3 separate regions of the Homo sapiens genome follow, and all the other regions are linked to region 3. The links come from fine-mapping of genetic effects on gene expression. A gene starts in region 3. Each other region holds a variant in brackets. All regions are shown on one strand. Distances are from middle to middle.

Region 1 (8,000 bases), 39 kb before region 3:
AATATTTGGGATATTGAATTCACAGCATTAAAATGAAATTAAGTGGTAATGTACTGCTATATTAAATCCAGTGATTTAATTAATATAGAAATATAGATTGTAAGAGGAAATAGTTTTTTACATTTCAGAGCTAATAAGTTATTTTCCCTGAAAAAGTCTTAATATACAATGAGTTCCCATTCTGTCATACCGTTCATCCTTCTAGCAATTGTTTCCAGAAAGGGCAAGTAGTTTTGTTCCCAAAGTAGATATTGAAAAAGGAAAGCTCATTGTCCATTTCTGTGTACTCTAGCCCTGGCCAGTGTCAAAGGTAAACAATACCGGACACTAAAGTGGCAAGGATAAGTTTTAATCAGTAGTAAGTATTTCAGTAGGAAAAGAGTTCAGCATAAACTGAACTGAACGTCAATTTGTACAGAGGTGAATAGGCATTTTAAAGGGAGGAGGGCAAGCAGGGGCTTAGTAGAGCCAGGAAAGAGAAAAATTACAAAGGGTAGTCAATGTACATGTGATTAGGCCAGCTAATCACACATCTGCTAAGTGGCAATTATCGAGGGTAGAATTCTATCCTCCCACAGAGACTGAAAGACAGAGACCCTATCCTCAAATGTTGACAGGAACAAACAAAATTTTTCTGGAAGCCTTGAGTTTCTTAGGCAGACACTTTCAACAGGGAGAGGGTCATCTCAGGGATATGACCTTGAGGTATTGGAAACTTGTTAGTGTTTACTCTTCATGGAATGAGGTTGAGGCCTAGCCAAGAAGGCACAGAGGAGCCTGGCTAGGGTTTGATCACGAAGAGAGTGTTTGTTACTACCTTAAGGGGCCCAAGGTTCTGAAGATGCAAACCAGAACCACCATCCCCTGGACCAACTCTACCTTAGAGTAGTACATTAGGTGTGCAGGCTCATCAGGGAGGGAAAGAGTTGTTCAGGAAATCTACATGATTGGTGTCTCATGTTCCTTGGGTGGGCCCTGAGCAACCACATGAGCACAGAATGGCAGTATCTCTTCTTCTAATGTGTGCCCCTTTTCTCAGATCTCATGCCTTGCTCTGTCTTGCTGTCATGAAAATGGCAAGGCTTAGAACCCTTGGACCCTTCTGCCTAGCTTTTGGTAGAGCCACTGACTCTGGCATGTTCTGGCTCAGTTCTTATTGCAAACTTGGTGACATTCTTTGAAAGCGCCGTTCTTCCCCTCACTAAGAAGGCAAAACCATTCTAGATTCAGATAATTCAGATAATTCTGGATTCCATTCTCAGCTTCACTGTTTAACTGTGTGGCTCTGAACAAGTAATCTCCTATCCAAATTGCTTTTTCACAACCTATAAAATGGGGACGGAATACCTAATGTTGAGTTGAGAAGATGAAATGACACAATGTACTTAGAGGCTTGGGCACATAACATGTGCTTAATTAATATGAAGTACACTCCCCTCTCCTTTCCCTCCCTGTGCATTTTGCTTCACAATGCCAGTGCTAACCTTTAGCCACCTGATCAAACACTTGGAATATGGACGCCAAGCCAGGCCAGAGATTAGCTGAACATTCCCCTTGGACTGCTGACTACCCACTCAGAGCCTCCTAGATCAAGTCTCTATCTTTCAGGCTTAATCTGGTCCTCTTGGCAGATGTCTGCCAAGACCCAATGTGCTTTACAGATGAGGCCTCAGAGGTGAGAAATCCACTTCCCTTTAGCTACATTTATAGGAATTCCATACCAAATTTAACATATTACTAACATTTAACATTCATGGTTAGTTTTCACATTTAAAATGGAGGGAAAAAAGATGAATCACTACTGCATTAGTCATGTTTTTAAAAGGAGTGGTAATACATGACTGTCTTAACTTATTGGAGTTTGTTTCCAAACACACAAAGGTGTTTGGTTGAAAGTTAAATGGTTTTCTATCAAGTTACTGTGTTCAGGAGACTTTTAGAATGAATAGAATAATTTACATTTTTAAAATAGAGTTGACCTAATTCTGGCCTATTTTAATGGTGTGCCCAAGTGCACGTGGACAGAGGTGTGGCATATGTACAGTAGACACAGCTGCAGCAAAGCTGGCAAATGGGAAGCTGGTGGTGCACTACCCTGGTACTTTTAGAGTTTGCAATTTCTAAGGAGTTCACTGTTGTGTTCTGAATGTAAATTTATAATTTTTGTAAAGCTTGTTTCATTTTAACTTAAATTTGTAGTTCCATAACTATCTACTGTATAAAATCAGATTTTAAACGCAAATCTTCTACTTTATGAATTTACGAAGTAAATATTTTATAGGTTGGTAAAACTATAGTTATTCTGAAAATGAGAAAAAGAAGATGGATCATTTTATTGGAGTTATCCTCCTTTGTTGGAAAGGTCTGACAAATCATAAAGTCTCATTTAAATACACTTTAAAAAATATGTAGATTTGCCTATACTGTGGATCAAATTGTGATCTTTGGAGCATAGCTACATATGGAAAAGCCTGCTATAAAGTTGTTAGGTTCTGAAAAGTACTAGGAAATAGGATTAATTATAAAGGGAATTATGAGTTCTATTGTTTCTAGTATTTGTTTCTTGTATACTGTTGATTAATTTAAATAAGTATGAGTGATCTCTTGGCACATCTTTGTTTTCAAAGACCTAATTTCTTTTTATTGTAAGTGTTTATTTTAGCAGTATTTGTGTAAATTAAATAGACAGTTGCTATGAACTGAATGGGACCCTCCTCAAAATTTATATTGAAGCCCTAACCCCTTATGTGGAAGTATTTAGAGAAAAGGGCCTATAGGAGAGAATTAGATTTAGATGGAGGTCCTAAAGGTGGGGCTCTCATGATAGGATAAGTGCCCTGATAAGAAGCGGTGCCAGAGAGCTTGTACTCTTGTGCACTCTCTCTCACGCTTGCCTTATCCCCACACCATACATCTAGGACAGGCCAGGTGAGCACACAGTAAGATGGCGGCGGCCTTCTAAAAGCCAGGAACAGAGCTCTCACCAAAACCTGACCATGCGGGCACCCTGATGTCAGACCTTCAGCTTCCAGAACTTGTAAAAAATAAATTTCTGTTGTTTAAGCTACCCAGTCTATGGCATTTTGTTATGGCAGCCTGGGCTAAGACAACAGTATACAAATTTAAATAATATTCTGTGAACCTTGCAATGTTAAATTTTAATCTTTTCACAGGCAGTTATTTTCTATAGACTGTCTATATCAAAACTATATGAAAATTTTAAAAATAGAAGCATTTAATCACTTGCAGTTCAAATCTATACCAATAAAAATAGATAGCAACATTGTTTTTAGGGTTCCTTTTAATGGTTATTTAATCAAATAAACTGTCACCTTTTTAGTGATACAGACTTCTTCGATTGCCAACTATTATACTCCATACATAATATTTTAAAAAGCATTTATGATAATAGAAGCAGTCTATCCCTTTAAAATTGGTACAAAAATTTGGATTAATGAGACTGCTCAACTTTGGAAAAATAGTTATGGCTCATTCTTCCTTTCAGAATCACAACTTAATTCATAGACACAGCACATCATGACCAAACTCTATGCCTTTCCCCACCAACATTCCACCCTTACACTCAGAAAATCAATAGCTCTTTCCTGTGTTCAGATTAATTTATTTCATATAAATTCACCTTTGAAAATATTCAAAGTATCAGTTTTTAAACTTTTTGGACTTGGAAGCACTTTGTACTCTTAAAAATTAATGAGGACATCAAACAGCTTTGTTTATTTGGGCTGTATCTATCAAAGTTTACCATATTAGAAATTAAAACTGAGAAGTTTGAAACATTTATTTGTTCATTTACTCATATTTATATATTGTCAAAGCTCATTTCATATTAACATAAACATATTTTAGGAAAAAATAACTATATATACATATATATATATATATATATATTTTTTTTTTTTTTTTTTTTTTTTTTTTAGGTACAGGGTCTCACTGTGTCACCCAGCCTGGAGTGCAGTGGTGCAGTCATAGCTCACTGCAGCTTTGAACTTCTGGGCTCCAGCAATCTTGCTGCCTCAGCCTCCTAAGCTGGGACTTCAGGTGCATGCCACCAGGCCCAGCTAATTTTTAAAAAATTATTTTGTGTACAGACAGTTTTGCTATGTGGAACTCCTGGGCTCAGGCAATCCTCCTACCTTGGCCTCCTAAAGCACTAGGATTACAGGCATAAGCCACTGTACCCAGCCAAACTATATTTTTTTAAAACAAAAAATAGAAGGAAGGTGTTGTTTTACATCTTTGCAAATCTTATGTGTCTGCTTCTGCACTTGATTTGTTGCTATGTGTTTTTTTGGTTGAAGTATGTGAAGAAAATCCAGCCTCACAGGAATATGTGATTGACAAGGGAGGAGTATTTTAATAATCTTTTCAAATAATTGTGAATATTCTTCTTTGACGCTACACTAAAACTTGACTGATAGTGGTTCCATAAAAATTAATTTCAGTATAGAATCTGAAGCCATGTTAATGAACTCTTCATACTCTTTTACATTAAAATCCATTGGCATATTTTACACTTAGGAGTGGCTGTCTTATCGGTGCATGGTTTTATAACATCATGCCTTTGTTATTTTGCATGTGTGTTCACTGAGTTATTTCAGTCTACCGAATGTTGACA[C/T]ATTTAATTATACAATATAAAAATCATGTTTGTTGATGTTCTTACTGATTTCATCAGAAAAATCTTTAAGTATTGGTAAGCTCTTAAGCTCTTGGTAGTGGATGCAAATTTTCCAAAATTCTTATTTCCAGTTGAAAGCTCCAAGTTTGTCATTGGCAACAAAGGCTTTCAGCTTTCCTTGAACTGGCAGGCCTTCCTTGTTTATTTTCAAGAATATTTCTGTGCTAACACCCAAATTGAGATAACTATAATTTGTCAGTTGATCATTCTGTCATGTAAAAATGTTTCATGAAAAAACCGAGCTAGCTCAGCTCTCAACTCAGTGCATGACTTCTTTTGTTTGTAACGTTCTTGTACTTTGGTACTCCGTTTAATCACATAGGATATTAGAAAGATGTATACTCAAAGAGTTGAGATTTTATAAAGATTAATCACTTTTACCACTTCATCAAGGACATTTTTAAATAAAATTGGCTTTAAAAATTAAACAACAACAACAACAAAAACCTGAGTGCATGGCAGTGCAAAATCATACAAGGACTACTAGGGCAGTTTAGTGCCCCTGCTTGGATTCTTGCTAAGGTTACAGCAGTTTTACTTAATACTGCTTTTGTACCATCAGTGCAAATATCAACATATAACATCTTTACGTTATTATGAAAATGATTCTTATTTGTGAATTCTCTAAAATGTAATAGTCTCGGAAGCCCCTCCCTGGGCCTTACTTTGAGAACAGCTGCTCTAAGGGGTGAAACTGTAGTTTACAAAAGAGGAATAGTGTAAATATTTCCTCAGTTAACCTCCTCTTAACTAACTTGCCAGTGAACCCAGCTTCCATTCCTTGTGTAACACAGTAGCTGAATGTCAGGACTTGTAGGTTGCCCTTTACTTTACATTTATTTCTTTTCCCCCCAGTAGAGTTACCGGCTGAGCAAGTGTCAGCTGTATTTGTTCTCAAACCAGGTAATACAGTTTCCCTAATACCTGTAATGAGACAGTTTTAATAATACCAATAGATAAAGTGTGAGTTCAAAAAGAAAAAGCTAATATTTCTAGAACCAACCTAAAAGCTTTGGAATAACTTACTGTAAAAAATTGCTGTCATGATATAGTGTGATTGAGATTTGTAGAAGATTAGGGAAAAACTCATAAAAATCTAGAAGGCTTCTGCGTTCCCTCACAGGTATCTTTAATTTCTTCCTATATAATAAAGAAAACAAAGCTGGAAATTGTGGTGATGTGTTATGTGTGTTCTTTGCAGGAAAGAACAATGAAACTCCATCTGTAGACCCATATTCAGAGAATAGGTTTTGGCTCACCTTCAAAAGATTGGTGAATCTGTGTACACATGGATATATTTTAAGTTGAAGCACAATTCATAAATTAATGTCTGTCTGTTTTTTTAAAAAATAATTTCCCACTTCACCACCATTCACAGTGAACTGATTTATTACTGGTCAGGATCACATTGAATAAGATAGTTTCTCAGCTGCCATCCATGAACTAAGAGCAAATTTCCATTGGTTTTTATGACTGTAAAATATAGTCTCTTCCATTATTTCACTTTGTATCTAAGGCTGGGTAAGATCGTGTTGGTGAAAGATTTAGATAACTTTTTAGAAATACAGCTATTACAGGTCAGCTTTTCTAATGATATAGGGACAGACCTGAAGGTGCCATAAACTTTTTTCTTTTGGGGCGCCAGTGTTACATTGAATTGGAAACTGTTTGAAATAAACAAACTGCAGGTTGGGGCTTGGACATTTTCACAGAAATTTGCATAACATTTCATGAAGGATGAGAATTATATCAAATGTTCTGGTTATCTATAAAAATAAGCTTATTGGTTAATCACACATGTGAGGGTTTACTGGCTGGTAGCAATTCATTGACATCAGCTTTATCATGGGTCGGTGTATATAGTGCCATTTATAGATGCATCATGACATGGTACAATGACACAAGTTGGGAAACAAATGACCTGGCTTCCCTGCCTGGCCCACCAGTCACCATGAGTCAGTGAAGATGATATTCCCAACTCCCTGGCAATGAGTGTGCAGTATGAATTGTTTTTCTCCTAGAAGTAGAGAATTCATTCACACTCTCATAGTCTGTTTACAAACAGTACACACACTGGCAAGCTGACTGGCTAGAGCAAGGGAGCTTTGTCTGTTACTAAATTGCTAAGAAACTCATCAATCTTTTTAGCACTAGTCTTTTTAGCACCAAACACCGAATGGTAACCAAATGCTGAAATTATTACTAAATATAAAGGGATCTCTCCAAATTCCTGATTCCATAATGATCACATAATCACTGCCAGCAGTGTGGCTGACAGTGAGTTACAGGTTTGTTCCTTCACTTTTTCCTTCTTTCTGAAAATATTTATTGAGCATCTGCTGTGTGCCACACTGTTCTATGATTGGGGATCCAATTGCGAATACAATAGTGAAGAAAAAAGTCCTGCCCTTGTAGAACTTAAATTCTAGGAGGGGAAACATATACATAGACATATTCATACATATATTTACTAAAGGGAAAAAAGAAAAGGGGAATTAAATATTATTTTGGGAGGATGATGAAATTCTGATAGGGTGACCAGGGAAGGCCTCACCTAGGCCATTTCTTTAGCATAAACTTCTAAAGGAAAAACATAATCTGGAAGAGGTAGTCTCTCAGAACATTTTAAAGTATTTGTAAACTGAGGTCTATGAGGTTTGTTTGAGAGAACTAATACATCTTAACTTTTACTAACTTTAACTGAAATCCAACATTTCTTCCAATCATGAGTAGAGATAACCAATCTTGATGGTATTGGGAGGATCTGTAACAAAGTTACAGGTAGGTATCACAGATATTTTCATTACCACATTACAGTTGTTATAGACATCTCAAAAATTATGCTTATTACCACTTACAAATTATAGTAGTTATTATCCCTGCTATTAAATGTTGGTATTTCATGCCTTAATTTAAAAAAGCCTGTATTATTATTTTTTAAATATGTGTATTGATAATTATATTTCAAAATAATAGATTTCCATGTATCCTTACATATTATGTCTTACGAATTTTAAAACATTTTGAGAAAGAGGTCAAGGCTTCACTAGATTGCCAAAAGAGGTTCATGGCATAGAAATGTTAAGCTTTAGCTTCATCCCTAATTGCTTTCTTCTACCTCCCACAGGTACAGCACACTTTTGATTTGTTTCCCTCACTTGGAGATTACTCAAATACATCCTGAACAGATGGGAAGGGTTTTCTGGTTAATTCCTTAGAATTCTGATTGTGAAAGATCCTTTGTTTGCTTCCTGCTTAATGCAAGCCACACACTAATTTGCAGAATAATATAGCTAGTCAAACA
Region 2 (8,000 bases), 64 kb before region 3:
TCAATCTTGCCATGGATATGGGCACACTGGTTCTAGTGTGGGGGATTATTCCTAATCATGTAACTAACTATGGGGCCCATCCATTAAGTTGAGCAAACTGGAGCAGCTGCTCTTAGGCTGAGCTTGGCGGGTGTGGTGGCAGGAGCTATAGGGGATGTACATTTCACTCTTGTTTTCTAAATATGATTACAACTCAGTTTTTAAAATTTTGTCTTTAATGATACCCCCAAGGACATCTGTGACAGCTGCTGGCAATTTCAGCAGCCTCCTTCAAATGAAGTTATGGTAGCGATCTTAACTGGTCAAGTTGCCCCAAGTTCAGGGCCTTTCCCATTGCCTTTGTTCTGATTCTTTACTTGTTCACCAGACAGTTATCTAATAATTCACTTCCTGTGTTGGTTTCCTGTGAAGTCAGAAAATATTTCCCAATCTGCTTGACGGTAAACGAATATGCTGACATTCTGGTTTTTCATATGTGAGAGGTAGGGAAGCCTAACATTAAGTAGCATCTCATCTCCAGGATGATCAGCTGAGATACTGATGGCAGTGATGGAGCCAGGACCAGACCCTGTACTGAGGTTAACCTATCCGCCTTGCAGTGGCAGCAGGTGTCCCCTAAATTTTAATGTACTCCTTCCGTAATATAAATGTGTTACTAAGAAACAGCTTTCCAGCCAGGGACTGTGTTTCCCAGTCGCTGTTAGATCGGCAGGCCTTTCTCCTGACAGAATAAAGGAGAAAAAAGAAGTGGTCGCCTTTTGTATATGAAGAATTAAATTACTGACCCTAGGAAGAAAATTTAGTTAATAGCTCATTTAATCTATTATTCTTTTCTTTGGGGCAAAACCTCTAACAAACACTTGAAAAATTTAAAGGGTCGTATACTTTCCTTTCCAGTGAGTGATGAGCTTACTATGAGTGATGTGTTGAAGAGTGAGAAGCATTGTGTTCCAATTTCAACTAAGTCTCTAATAAGCAGTATGATCTGGCCCTAGTCAGTTAACATCTATAGTTCTTATATTTTTACCTGTAAAGTATGAAGATTTAGTTTCTTTCAAATAAAATATTTTATCAATAGGTTAGTATAATCTTGCAGGTCTGAAACATCTTCCTTTTTATAAATATTATTGAGCTCTTCATGTCATGTTCTATGCTAAGTGCATCACACATGTCTAATCACCCCATGAAGCATATTTCATTTTGTGGATGACAGAAGGGAGGTTTTGAGAGTGGACGTCAGTTGATCAAAGCTAGGAGGCAGCAGAGCTGAGATTTATGCTCTTGTCTGCCCAACTCCATGCCCCATACTGTTAATCATTATGTTGTGTTCCTCAAATTTGGCACATATTATAAGAGGGTTTTTTAATCCATCTTAGTTTGGGGCATGTTTTACTCTCTACAGGGTGATTTCTTTCTCCCATCCTTATACTTTCTCTGTTTTCTGAAGCCTGTGGAATTGAAAGAACTTTTGTACTACCATTTGTTTCATTCTATAAACAGTCCCAGATCATTTGAAACCCAAATCTTTTTTGAAACTTGATGTACTAGTTTAGTGTTCAGTTTTTTCTTCTCAGCATATTCTTCTGTGCTTTCTTTGTGTAAGGATGGCAAAAAAATGGAACTTTTAATGTTATTGAACATTCTCACAAATTAGTTTGGTTAAAGGAAAGAATCTTGGCTTAGGATTTAGGAGGTGCAAGTTCTAGTTCTTTCTCTGAAATTTATTGTGGAACAAATAATACTATTTTGCTATATTAAGTTATTGAAGAGTAAAAGATCAAATATGTGAAAAGCATTTAGGATCACAGAAACGAAGTTTTTCTGTGTGACTGCTGAATCATAATAGCTGCAGTGGATTGTTGGAACCAGAATTACAGCAAAATAATTTGGGGCCTATCTTTGCTTTATAAAGATCTGCTTAAGGTAATTGTAATTCATAATTCACGTGGCTTGGCCTACACGTAATGCTAAACTTGGACTGCTGAATATATACAGGCAGAGAGATGATCAAATTGCTATCTGAATTATAGCAGTAACAGCGTGATTTTTTTTTTTTTTAAAGACAAGGTCTCACTGTGTCACCCAGGCTAGAGTGCAGTGGCACAATTATAGCTCACTGCAGCGTCGAACTCCTGAGCTCAAGCAATCCTCCTGCCTCAGCCTCCCGAGTAGCTGGAACTACAGGCACATGCCACCACATCTGGCTAATTTTTTTATTATTTTATTTTATTTTTGTGGATATGGAGTCTCACTATGTTGACCAGGCTGGTCTCAAACTCCTGACCTCAACTGATCCTCCTACCTCATAGATTTAAGAATGTTTTACTATCCAAGTTGTGTGACATAAGACAAATGAATGGGAAGAAAAAGTGGATCATGAAAGTTGTAGAGTTAAAAGAGGAAAAAGAGAATTTCAGGGGACATGATGCTCAATGGAATCATTCAGAAACAGCCTGAGAATTGAGTTGTAGATAAAGTACTTATTAGTAGCATCAGCTGCTGAGAGTCGCTGGTAATTTTGCCATGTTGAAAATGCTATGCTCTTGAACTGGGCGAAGTGCAACTTAAAGATTTAAAGGGCCTGGGAGTGCTCTGCTGTTTTTGAAACACAATGAAGTAGGGGGTGAATAGCTTGAGAGATCATGCACAAACATCTTGAAGTTCAGACTTATTTCTCCAGGACAGAAGGCACATTTTGAGATAGTGTGTGTGTTTGTGTTTGTTTCATAGTGTTGAAAGTGGGAGGGTTGGCTGGGCGCGGTGGCGCACGCCTGTAATCCCAGCACTTTGGGAGGCCGAGGCGGGTGGATCACGAGGTCAAGAGAGCGAGACCATCCTGGCTAACAGGGTGAAACCCCATCTCTACTAAAAATACAAAATATTAGCTGGGCATGGTGGTGGGTGCCTGTAGTCCCAGCTACTGGGGAGGCTGAGGCAGGAGAATGGCGTGAACCCAGGAGGCAGAGCTTGCAGTGAGCCGAGATCGGGCCACTGCACTCCAGCCTGGGCGACAGAGCGAGACTCCGTCTAAAAAATAAAGAAAGTGGGAGGGTTGGGGCTGACCATTCCCATAAACTCATTAGCTTTTAATGCCCTTTGTTTCGGTAAGCATTTTTGGCATCTCTCAAACTATAGTTATTCAGGTACCACCTTCAACAATTTTTGCCATATCCATTTACTTTTTTTTTACTTTTAAATTTAAATATATTTTAAACAGGAGTTTTGCATATCTGTAGAAATCTCAGGTTTGATGTGGTATAGTTTTTCATAATGCACATTAAAATAAGTACGTAAAATTAACGTAAAGCCTGTCCATTTTTGGTCCACCTAAAATTATCTTGAAACACTCTTTTCATTTAATTTTGGCTCTTCTCTTTGTACAATGAGCACACACAATGTCTAGAGTGGAAGGTCAAAGAGAAAACTCAATGACTGGAAATAGAGATTTTTCAGTGAAATTTTCTAGACAGATTTAAAATGATGGGTGGGTATTACTTCCTCTTTTAGGTTATCAGCCTAAAACAAGTTTGGTTTAGATTTTAGTTAGATTTAATTTCTTTTCTTTTTAAACTAGTGGATAGTTTTTAGGCTACATAAGTTTCTAGGCTTCATACGTGTTTTCTCCCATTAGTTTCCTAGAGGGACTTTTTTTCTGGAAAGTTCCACACTTTCCTTGGCTTCAAATAAGGGGGAACAAAGTTTCTCCATGCTTATTTTATTGATGAGGTCTGCTCTACCAACAGCTAAGCCCAGGGATTTGGTTCAGCACAGCCAGCATGCTGCCTTTTAAAAGCCAGATTCAGTGCTAAGCTCCATGATACATAGAGGAAGAAGGTTCTCACCTTCTGTGAGGCATTGCATGTAAACAACCGAAACAGTCCGGTGTGATATAGGTATGTGCCAGATACAAGAGAGATCAACTCTTTGGGTGAATCAACAAAAGCCTTAATAGCTGGGAGAGCACTGGGGGCTGAGCACACTGAGTGGGGCATGGGGAAGGTAGTACACCATTTGTGGTATTGAGAATGCCACGGTTCTTTCTCCTCAGTCTTCATAGATGATTGTTCTGCAGAATCTCTATGGGTTCTGCATTGGCTAACGTGGTGTTCTGACGGAAATTAATATTTTAAATGTACAGTAATGCACAACCTTGCTGCTCTGACTCCCTTGCACGAATTCAAAGTAATAGCTAGAGAACCTTCAATAACAGTTGGCATGTTGAGATGGCATCCTTCCCAAAACAACATCTTAATGAGGTTCTATGCTTCAGGATCAGCTTTTCTGGTTTAAATATATTCAGACATATCCTACGTAACTGGAAGCAATGTGGCAGAAGTGGCAGGGGTCACATTGTGAGTTTTGCTGAGTTAGGCATGTAGGCCCCACAGTGTGAGGGACTCTTCGGAGCAGTCCTGAATATACAGTGATTCTGTGCCTGGGTGGGAGTGTGGTTGCATAGGGGAGGACAAAGAACATGATGAATTAACCTTACCCACGTTTGGGGAAGTTTGTACAGAATGTGAGATGGAAAAATTCTAGTTTCCATGTATTAATGCCTTCTTACCCATATGCTCATAGCTGGAGCCACTCCCCTATCCACCTGAGCTCCCACACATTCAAAAGCTGGTAGTTGAGGGATCTTTCACTGCATGTACGTTGGGTGTGTGTATGGGGGTTCAGTTAAAGGAGAAAGTGTCTAAAACCCCCACAATGCTGATTGCATTGATGAGAGCATTCAGACTTAGACTTTTAGGGACTTAATATATACAGGATTTTTTTTTAATCGTTAGCGGTATATTATTCTCTTTCTTTCTTTTTTTTTTTTTTTTTTTTGAGATAGAGTTTCTCTCTGTCACCCAGCCTGGAGTGCAGTGGTGGATCTTGGCTCACTGCAACCTCCGCCTCCCAGGTTCAAGCGATTCCTGCCTCAACCTCCCGAGTAGATGGGAATACAGGC[A/AC]CCCCCCACCACACCTGGCTAATTTTTGTATTTTTAGTAGAGATGGGGTTTCGCCATTTTGGCCAGGATGGTCTTCAACTCCTGACCTCAAGGGGCCCGCCCGCCTCCGCCTCCCAAAGTCCTGGGATTACAGGCATGAGCCACCGTGCCTGGCCGGTATATTGTTCTCTAAATGGAGCAAGGAATAAGCCCCTGGGGGGACTGAGCATTACCTCAGACCCAGCCATTTCTGTGTGCTGCCAGAGACCACACCCCTCCTCAGGCATAACCACAGAAGACTATTTCTTTTGGCTGGGTCTCTGACCTTGAAGGATCCAGCCTGCCAGCTGCCTTGAGACTTTGGGTGCTAGACATAATACTGGCAGAGTCCAAGAGTTATTTCTATTTCATATGTTTTATTTAGTATGGCTATATTAATTTTTTATTCATCAGAAGTTCTGCTGTTGAAATAAATGTAAAATGTTTTACAAAACCAAAACCACTGCCATCGAGTTTCATATATAGGTAGAAATATAAAAAACTCCAGAATAAGGTAGCACCCTCAAATGATGTCTCATTGCCTTTTTCTTGGAAACACACACAGCAAGTTGAAAATGTGGATTGATCTGCCATATCTGTTAAATTATTAGTTTTTCTTCTTCTAAATATGATGAGGCAGTTTTTCCTTGGAAAAACAGTTTGTGTTCAGCTTGGGAGGTTGATTTTCCACCATCAGTTTCTCCCTTTAATAATTGAAAACCACTGTTCGTTATTTACATAAAACTGTCTTTTTCTGGTCTGCTTTCTATAACCTTTCCCCTCTTAAGAATTTTAAGAATTCCCTGACTTTCCTCTGAGGGATTTTCTGCCTGCTTTATCCCAGATGTGGGACATTGACTAGGCTGAGGTTTTGGGGATTTTATTTTATTTTTTTTAGTGTTTCTACATTTGAAAGATGTTCTTTTAACCAGTGCACAAATCTGCCACTGAAAAAAGGGGCTTTGAAGAAAAATCAAGTAGTTAAGAAAATATGTGAACTTTGTTTACATTTCTCACTTACTGAATGACACCAAAATCCCATATGCCAAATGAAAAAGTAGACAGTAGTTTCAGATAATAAGGGGAAAATGCACCCGTGTTATTTCAGCCTTTTAATTCTGGGATTTTATTCTCTGAATGAAGGCATGTCAGTTTCTGGTCCCAGTGGCACTGTGTTTGGTCTTCACTACATGCTTGCTGATGTCAGCCCAGGAAATACACGGGCTTGGCAGATGTTTACATGGCCTTTGTCTTCTCTCTTTCCACCTTCTGCTCACATAAAGAGGATATTTAACCTTATTCATAATATTTTGTCTGCTTACAGATGTATTGATCCTAATCCCTGGTTCAGAAATGTTAGGAAAAGGAGATAAGTTACAGTGAAAGAGGCTGTAGTAAGAAATACAGGATTTTCTGGTTTTTTGTAATGTCTACTCAGATTCCCAGATGATTGTTCATTACCAGCTTTTGGTTATTGTGGTTTATGTATTAATGTCTAAAAAAATATACCATGTGATGTTTTTTGCATGATACTATGTGAGAAGAATACCAAGAATAATTTTTTCCTTACTTGAACAAATATTATACATTTTCCCTTAGTCCAAAATTCTGTTTTCCATAATGAATACAATTCTGATGTAGTATGTTTAACTCTATAAAATCAGAACTTTAGTAATTTTCTTCCTAATTAAATTTTTTTGTTGTATTTTTAAAAATCTAAATTCATAAGCTTTATTTTCACATATGGTTTCTACCTCTTATATGTTTCCACACCTGTGCCATGTTCCCTTGGCTGACAGACACTTTTTTTCCTTTTTATCTCACGTAGGATCTTTCGAAGATGGTTTGGCTGCCTTGGAGATTTGGAGATCTGATGCCACGATGAGGACTCACACACGGGGGGCTCCCAGTGTGTTTTTCATATATTTGCTTTGCTTTGTGTCAGCCTACATCACCGACGAGAACCCAGAAGTTATGATTCCCTTCACCAATGCCAACTACGACAGCCATCCCATGCTGTACTTCTCCAGGGCAGAAGTGGCGGAGCTGCAGCTCAGGGCTGCCAGCTCGCACGAGCACATTGCAGCCCGCCTCACGGAGGCTGTGCACACGATGCTGTCCAGCCCCTTGGAATACCTCCCTCCCTGGGATCCCAAGGACTACAGTGCCCGCTGGAATGAAATTTTTGGAAACAACTTGGGTGCCTTGGCAATGTTCTGTGTGCTGTATCCTGAGAACATTGAAGCCCGAGACATGGCCAAAGACTACATGGAGAGGATGGCAGCGCAGCCTAGTTGGTAGATTTTTGTCTTGTTCTTCTTACTGTGGTAACTCTGCATTAGAAAGAAACAAATCCATATGACATCTCAGTGGCCAGATCTTCATGTACCTCTTTGTGTATGTGTGTGGGGGGAGGTGTTATTTGTTATTTGTGTTGCCAGTCTTATGAATGGCCCTTAGTTTCAAAAGATGTAGTAACTTCCATGTTTAAAGTTAGAAGGAAAATATTTAGATGCAGCCTAATCTAAAGAAAAAATAATTTGCTGAATTGAGTAAAGAGTATCATCGTGATTGCTGAGAATTCTTTCTTCCATATTCAGCATGTATATATTACTATCATCTGGTGTTAGGTTTGATTGATCCCAAGTAGTTAAAACATTTTGCAGCAAGACATTTCAAGTAATTAAGACTTACTTGCATTTTATGATCGTAAGGAACTAAATGTGAATGGGATGGGACTGACTGGCAATTTATAAACACATCCCCTCCAATAACCAGCAGATTTCTGAGACCTGTAGGAAAACCAACATTATTGTGTAATTGTGTGAGGAATTCTAACTACATAATAATTTAGTTTCGAAGTTTAAGATTTGAGAACAAATTCCTGTCTTTTCGATTAGCTTAAATTTATTTGATTAATTTATAATTAATGCTTCATATGCTTCCAAACAGATATGGGATGAGTTGATTAAACAAGGGATTCTACAGATGTTTTTACTCATGCAATTTTTAAATACACATTTAT
Region 3 (8,358 bases):
TCTTCCACGGGATTCTCTCTGAGCCTACTCTGGCTCAAGAGGCTACCAGATTCATGAATCATTCTTTGCTCAATTAAACTCTGTTAGATTTAATTTGGCTATGTTTTTTCTTTTAACAGAGTTAAAATAACTATCTGCTGCAAGAACAAAAATTAGTGTGTTAATCAATAAGTACTTAAACTTTTGTGATAGGCTTAGGAAATTCACACTAAGAGAGGAATAAAAATCTTTAAAAGGCTTTTTTGAAATGTCATGGGATTGCCATTTAACAAATGACATCTCTGTGCCAAGGAAAGGGTCTGATCTTTCCCTCCTTCTGCTTTACACTTCCATTGGAAAAAACTTTTATAAACGTTTAAAATATCTGAAGACAACAGCATGTTCCAGATTTTCAAATATGTTATCTAACATGAGCAATATATCCACAAATTTTAACATTCAGAAAGATATTCCCTTTAAGACTAGGAGTGTCAGATTTTGTAAACTAACTTTTTAATTTGGCATCTGGCATTTCTTCTTGCATATGTTACCTAAGATATTTGAATATTAATTTGATTTTACTCTTTTTGGAGGGTCTTGGGGCCAAGATTAATGTTGTATAAGAATCCAGCAGTCATATTCCAAGCAGGGTCATGCCATTAGTCTGTATTCTTATGAGAGCCGCAGAGAACAATGTTTGAGAACTAGCACACATGAAGACAATTGCAAGACACTTTCAGATTCACAGTGTGTATGTGCATTTCCTTTCAAGAAGTTCCTTTTCCAAGAAATGTTCTGTGGTTTCTGAAACCCATTCCTGACATTGAAAATGATAGTGCTGAAAAAGTACTACAGTTAAAGGAAACCAAAGGGAACCCATAACCATTGGCTTTACACTGTGCTTAATGTGAGACTCTACTACTCATTTCTTTTTATTTTTTATTTTTGACCTCTGAACTTTTTATTGGCCTCCTGCTCCTCGAAGGGTCCCCTACTTCTGCTGGCTTAATGTCTCAGAACTTTGGTGTCATTGGTCTCAGACACCACTTCGCCATCCACTATTGGGCGGGTGGTGTCTTTTGGATGGTTTGCATGGAGTTGCTGTTGTCCAGGGCATCACCAAGATTGAAGTCCTCGCCATCTTCCAGCAGGCATTGGTAGGTGGCAATCTGAGTCTCCAGCTTGACTTTGATGTCCAGCAGGGCCTCGTACTGCTGGGCCTAGTGCTGTCCCTCTGCCTGGGTCTGTGCCAGCTCTGACTCCAGGTGCAGCAGGATCCCATTGAGCTGTTCCATCTGCAGGGCATAGCAGGCCTCCACCTCCCTCAGGCTGCTTTCCAAGCGGCCTTCAGATTTCTCATGGAGTCCAGGTCGATCTCCAAGGAATGGATTGTACATCTCAGCTCTGTGAGCGTCATCTCAGCAGCTCCAACCTCGGTGGACTGAGTGGTGGCCACTGTGGTGCTCACCTCAATCTGCTGAGACCAGTACTTGTCCAGCTCCTCTTAGTTCTTCCGAGCCAGCTCGTCATATTGGGCCCAGATGTCTTCCATGATCTTGGCAAGGTCCTGAGATTTGGGGGCATCTACCTCCACGGTCAGCCCAGAGCTGGCAGTCTGGGCTTGTAGGCCTTTACTTCCTCTTCATGGTTCTTCATGAAGAGCAGCTGCTTTTTGAGAGCCTCGATCTCTGTCTCCAGCTGCAGCCGAGTGACATTGGTGTCATCAATGACCTTGTGGACCCCATGGATGTCGCTCTCCACAGACTGGCACATGGGCAGCTCTGTCTCATACTTGACACTGAAGTCATCAGCAGCAAAACAGGCATTGATTTGCAGAACGATGCGGGCATTGTCCACAGTATTTGTGAAGATCTGAGCCCTCAGGTCCTGATGGTCATGAAGTAATGGCTCCAGTCTCTGGCCTGGGGTCCCTTCTTCCCCAGGTGCTCCCGGATTTTGCTCTCCAGCTTCCAGTTCTCGGTCTCCAGGCTCCTCACTCTGTCCAGGTAGGAGGCCAGACAGTCGTTCAGGCTTTGCATGGTCTCCTTCTCATTCTGGATGCCTGCTATCCCTGCCAGACCCCTGGCCATCCCTGCAGCCAGGCCCCCGGATCCCATGCCGCCCCAGAAGCTGGTGGAGCGGGACACAGAGATCCGGGAACCAGAGTCCTGGGTGCCTGCATAGACACTGGCTGCACTGCTGACCAGCTGGGCGATGAAGCTGGGTGTCTGGACAGAGCCCAGGGAATGGTAGTTGGTGGAGAAGGTGGAGCAAGTGGTGAAGCTCATACTGTCCAGGGAGGAGAGCAAGAGGACAGGACTCAGGCTTTACCGATGACATTCTACTACTCATTTCTTAACAGCTGAAGCAAATCACAGGCTTTCAAAAGTGTAAAGACATTTAAAATATTATTTAGTCTACCTCTCCACACCATTAGGGTGTTAGTCAATTTCCACTAAGGGCTGAACTTCTGAGCAATATCCTCTCAGAACAGACCTGGGTATGGAGGGCTGGGAATCTTCAATAGACCCAGAGCTAGAACCAGTCAATCCAGTGGTGGTGGGAGTGGATGGCAGGGTACTAGACTCAAGACCAAGTGCTGGGGAAACATTCAGGCTGGCAGGCAAAACCTGGACTCTCAATTATAGAAACCTGTACTAAGTTCTGAATGATCATTGCATCTGGGAGAGTTGGGTTTGGGAGAGCACAGAAGTAGCAAACCCAGGAGGTGGTGTTTAGAGACACAAGCTGACAAGACAATATGTCAGGATGCAGCTCAGTCTGTGAAAGTTTCAGAGGCAGAATTGCAGACTACATATTCTGGTCTGTGAAGCACCTAAACCTGACCTTCCACTTGCAGCTTTGGCCTCATGATGTGCCAACTTGCCTGTCATTCTCAATGCTCCCATCACTCTAGCCTTCTTTCTAACCAAGCTCCTTTGTACTCCAGACTCATTCAGATTAAATGTCAGTTTCTCACAGAGGCTCTTTCAGGACACTCTCTAACTCCAATTTATCCTGTGCGTAATCTTTAGGACCCCTCCTCTCCATTTCCTATATCATCTCTACTGTAAGTTCAAAGACGGCAGGATACCTGTGTCTTCTTCCTTGTTGTATCCAGCAATACCAGGCACTTTTGATAGGTACTTGACATATTCTGAGTACTTATTAAACATTTAAATGAATGACTGAATGAACAAATGAACTAATTAATAACTGGTTAACAAATGAATTAATCTAGTTGGGGAAGGGGGCTGATAGATAAAAGTTTCTGTAAGTAAACATATTTCAAACAAATCCTTGACTAAATAACAGAAGCCAGGGAAGAGAAGGTGATGGACTTCATTAGAGTCTTAAAAAATGAAGGGAATGAAAACAGACCATAGGAATGAGGTGAAGGAGGAGATGGTGCTGATTAGATTGAGCCTCAGTGGATGATAAACTATTATAGCACAGTGGTAAAACCCTGGTATGGCTATCAGCAGGTAACCAGGAAAATGCCAGCCATCCCTCTTGGTTTGAGAGATGTGGGAGAATAAATTAATCTCACTCAAGAAGACAGAAGGATGCATTTTTATTAGGTTTCGGTTAGGGGAGATTTGGATAAAGCCATCTGCACAAAGGTTGTGGATATAGTGATGTTTCTGCATGATGGAATATGGGAAAGGGTGGACGAGAGAGGACACATCTTAGAGTATTATGGTAGAGGTGAAGAAGAGTCCAGCAGTAAGAGGAGAGTTACTCAAGGCACAGGGGAAGAAATTTATCTTGGGAGATGACAAATTACAAAGATAACAGTCAGAGCAGAAGTGATTCGCTTCAAACACGCAACTTTGCTGCAAGTTGACAGGAAGCCTAGCAGTATCTGGTCTAATCTCAGAGAAGAGGGCCCCAACTTTCCTGCATGACCATGAAGACCCTCATCTGGGGCTGGCCCCTAAACACATAGAAAAAAGATGTCTATTTACCACATCACTATGGAATGACAGCTTTTGGCACTACGCTAGGCACCCTGCTGGTGGTGTTGGAGAGGGAGTAGTTAAGAAGGCAAGTTGGACTAAGAAAAGAATAATACATTTCTTGTCCATTCTCTAAAAATTCACTTGGTTCCATGGGCTACCTATTCTTTCCAGATAAAATAAGGCAAGCCTGGTGGATGGGCACCAATAAGAACCATTTCATTGTGAACTGCCCACCCAAGCTCCATATCCAGATACTCTCCTTGTGGTGAAGCAGACAGCTAAGGTGTACACCAATTCTCTTAAGGTAGCAGAGTCATTGAGTCACTTAATACTATCCACTGAATTGATCCTCGTTTAAAATTCAAAATTCAGTATTCATCAAGATTCTTAGGTTATGTACAATGTAATTATTTGTTGTCTATTCCCCAAATTGCATTTTAAGGGGAAAACTCTCACACTGATCATTCATTTAACAGACATATCCTATATGTAAAGGCACTTTACATATGCTACTCAATCTACTCATGTCAGTAATCTTGAAAAGTGGGCACTATTATCCTTCTTTTACAAATAAGGATGCTGTGTCTCAGAGGGGCATACTTGTTAAACACACCACAGACAAGATGCACTTGACTTCAAAGCCCATGTTCTTTCAAGCACACCTCAGCTCAGTCTGGAGTCACACAGAGTAAGGCTCAATATCACAAAAGTGGTTACAGTGTTTGTGTCAGAACAACGCTGCTTGAGAAAACTGAAGGTGGAGGAAACAACATTAGATAGATGTAGCTGCAGTTTGAAATTTTGGGTTCAACTAGCATTCTTTGAATAATCATGTATCCCCTTCTGTGCAGATCAGCTTGGTGGTCAGAGTCAGAATTTTACTCTCCTCCAGGCATTGACAGTGTTATGACATATCTGAAAGAAAAGAACATTGTATTGACGAGTAAATCAATACAGTATATTTGGTCTAATGTCCTGAAGGAGATCAGGCAGAGGAGAGAAGAGTCAGTGTGAACTAGGCTGGTGGCTCTGTCCGGTAGGGAGATGGAAAGGGTGCCGCCCATCATAGAAGTACCAGAACTTGAGCTGGACTTTGCTGATTTAGCTTATGGAAGAGGAACCAGAAATTTGTCCTTGAATAATGTTTCCCGTAAGTAATCAGTTTTTTGATAATTATTTGGTTTTACTGTGATCTGGCTTAGTAACTAGGGTGGCTGCAATAGAGGAAAATCTGGTATTTCCCAGTTTTTCCAACTGGCGGCCGTGGGTCAAGAAGGTTAGTTTCCTGGTTCGTTGTCAGATTGGTGGTAATAAAGGAACAAGGTCAACCTTCTGTCAGAGTTCCTGAATTGGGGGAGGAAGATAACTGGTGCCTCTGCCTTTGGAATGGGGTGGGTGCCAGAGAAGTCAAGGTCCTGGGGGTGTTTGCTTGCCTGGTTCTGTTAACCAGAGGTGGTGTGGCTGAAATGAGAAAGTGAAACTTTAGGAAGGTCTGAGAAGCCCTCTTCCCTTTAAAAAAAAAAAAAAAAAGGCTGCTTCTCGCAGAGTGGAAAGCCCCGGTCCCCATCCCACCAAAACCATTTGACAAGCAGGACAACGAAGAGGCAGAAGGATCTGGGCCTGTGCGCGACGCCCCGGGGGACGAGGCTCATGGAGAAGTTTCGGGCGGTGCTGGACCTGCACGTCAAGCACCACAGCGCCTTGGGCTACGGCCTGGTGACCCTGCTGACGGCGGGCGGGGAGCGCATCTTCTCCGCCGTGGCATTCCAGTGCCCGTGCAGCGCCGCCTGGAACCTGCCCTACGGCCTGGTCTTCTTGCTGGTGCCGGCGCTCGCGCTCTTCCTCCTGGGCTACGTGCTGAGCGCACGCACGTGGCGCCTGCTCACCGGATGCTGCTCCAGCGCCCGCGCGAGTTGCGGATCGGCGCTGCGCGGCTCCCTGGTGTGCACGCAAATCAGCGCGGCCGCCGCGCTCGCGCCCCTCACCTGGGTGGCCGTGGCGCTGCTCGGGGGCGCCTTTTACGAGTGCGCGGCCACCGGGAGCGCGGCCTTCGCGCAGCGCCTGTGCCTCGGCCGCAACCGCAGCTGCGCCGCGGAGCTGCCGCTGGTGCCGTGCAACCAGGCCAAGGCGTCGGACGTGCAGGACCTCCTGAAGGATCTGAAGGCTCAGTCGCAGGTCTGCCGCTGGCGCTGGGGGCGTTTGGGAGGAGCCGAGAGGCCGAGCTTTCTCAGGGCCGCTGGGGTGAGGGAAAAATCGGTGACTTTTCTCCAGATATACAGTACCCTAAGAAAATCTAGAATGGCTCCTTGCATCTAATTTGCCGTCAAGAGAATATCTGAATAAAACGAATGAAAAGGAGAAAAACGCATTCCCGTAGTATCTGGCACTGTACATGAATCGTGGAAAGTGGGAGTGAGAGTGGGCACGCCTACTCAGTGCCAGATACTGCGCTAGGCCCTTGACCTCCTGCATTATTTTTACGTCTCACAACAGCTCTGTTGGGTGCAAAATTGCGGTTTTGCCATTACAAGTAATAGTTTCGTATCTCCCCTATATAGTGACTTCACTGAGTCTAAGTAAAGTTGTTTGCCCAGCCAATAGAAAGCAGAATTGTTAGAATTAAAGGGGTCTATAGAATAAAATGGGTTTGTCTGGCTCTAAAGCCACCACTGGACTTAGAAAGCTCAGAGGTTCTTTAAAATGAACACTTCTTTCCCAGGATTTGCAGAAATTCCACATTTTGAGTTCTAAGGGAATGGTATGGGCTCCTCCCTGGGCAGAATCATAGTGCATAACTTGGACTACAGTTGACTTTCCAAACGAGAAGTTGTACTGGGGGGCTAGGGAGGTTACTGCGACACCTTACTCTTAAGGAATTAAGACCTAAAACTGTTGCTTGTTCATCATCATAACTGGCGAGTAGTTGAAACTTTATCTGAGGATTTTTAAATTTCTTGTAAAAAACCAAGTAACTAAATTACTATTTTGTTGTGTTTTCTTAAGGTGTTGGGCTGGATCTTGATAGCAGTTGTTATCATCATTCTTCTGATTTTTACATCTGTCACCCGATGCCTATCTCCAGTTAGTTTTCTGCAGCTGAAATTCTGGAAAATCTATTTGGAACAGGAGCAGCAGATCCTTAAAAGTAAAGCCACAGAGCATGCAACTGAATTGGCAAAAGAGAATATTAAATGTTTCTTTGAGGGCTCGCATCCAAAAGAATATAACACTCCAAGCATGAAAGAGTGGCAGCAAATTTCATCACTGTATACTTTCAATCCGAAGGGCCAGTACTACAGCATGTTGCACAAATATGTCAACAGAAAAGAGAAGACTCACAGTATCAGGTCTACTGAAGGAGATACGGTGATTCCTGTTCTTGGCTTTGTAGATTCATCTGGTATAAACAGCACTCCTGAGTTATGACCTTTTGAATGAGTAGAAAAAAAAATTGTTTTGAATTATTGCTTTATTAAAAAATAAACATTGGTATTTTTTGAGTGCTTTTTTTCTTCCAAATTGTGGAATTTTATATCTGAAATTAAAATATAGAGCTTAACCTCTTTATAATATTATTTAAAACAAACAAAAAAAGAAAGTGATTCATCCAAAGTAAAAGCTAGAACTAAAAGAAGTCTTATATCCTTGTTCTAGAGTCCTTTTCAAATAAAAGACTTTTGGAGCAAAAACAGTGGCAGAACAATTGAACTTCAGACATTTCTGTTAGGTTATCTGATGTTAATTTCAAGTTCATTTTCTTGCCCACAACATCTTGTTAGGAACTTTAAAATTACGGCATTCTAGCTGGTTCTATAGCACAATTGATGGCACATTGGGCTTCTAGTCGAGCCTGCTGTGGTCATTCAAAAATTAGAGCATTTTATGACTCTAATAGGGTTACAATAATAAATTAATCATGAAAAGGAAAATAAACTTTGTAAAATACGAAATTTGAAAAAGTAGTTAAGAGAATTGCAGGCAACAAGTGTTGTTTTTAGTTTATAGGATCAGAGGAAAAGTGTTAAAGCTTATATGTTATGGTAAATATAAACTAAACACAAAAGTAGAGAGGATAGTTTTATGAGCCTCCAAGTAGTTGTTACACAGCTTCAACAGAGTTGGGAAGTCAGATAAAACCAATACCAAACAAATAAATGCAAATTGTGACCTGATTTAGATTAGGGGAGAAGGGATTTGGGGAAGCTTTTTAAAAACTGAATCCTGTAGGGTAGCAAGAAGGAGCATTTCAGTCATACAGATAAAACCAATACCATACAAAGAAATGCAAATTGTGACCTGATTTAGATTAGGGGAGAAGGGATTTGAGGAAACTTTTTGAAAACTGAATCCTGTAGGGTAGCAAGAAGGAGCATTTCAGTCCTACTGAAGGAACAGTATGTGCAAAGACTAGGGAGAA

Evidence for each region.
Region 1: its variant is fine-mapped to the expression of CALHM6 in whole blood (TOPMed, PIP 0.99).
Region 2: its variant is fine-mapped to the expression of CALHM6 in whole blood (INTERVAL, PIP above 0.99).

Annotation. Positions count from the first base shown.
Region 1 is chr6:116,417,556-116,425,555 of GRCh38, forward strand. The region is part of intron 2 of DSE (dermatan sulfate epimerase); the gene reads left to right. Among named protein-coding and RNA genes, the nearest start is that of CALHM6, 40 kb to the right of the region's middle. The variant C/T (reference allele first, on the strand shown) is at 4,637.
Region 2 is chr6:116,392,395-116,400,394 of GRCh38, forward strand. DSE (dermatan sulfate epimerase) reads left to right here. Exons shown (of 6, transcript NM_013352.4): 2 at 6,804-7,272. The coding sequence starts at 6,857. Among named protein-coding and RNA genes, the nearest start is that of DSE, 25 kb to the left of the region's middle. RefSeq lists enhancers at 6,557-7,057, 7,058-7,558. The variant A/AC (reference allele first, on the strand shown) is at 4,958.
Region 3 is chr6:116,456,339-116,464,696 of GRCh38, forward strand. It overlaps CALHM6 (calcium homeostasis modulator family member 6), which reads left to right and starts at 5,037. Exons shown (of 3, transcript NM_001010919.3): 1 at 5,037-5,091; 2 at 5,534-6,116; 3 at 6,945-7,433. The coding sequence starts at 5,592. The coding sequence ends at 7,367. CALHM6-AS1 (CALHM6 antisense RNA 1) reads right to left here and starts at 7,366. Exons shown (of 2, transcript NR_174951.1): 1 at 7,281-7,366; 2 at 4,140-4,856. It also overlaps the pseudogene KRT18P22. RefSeq lists enhancers at 5,443-5,552, 5,563-5,642 and a silencer at 6,023-6,102.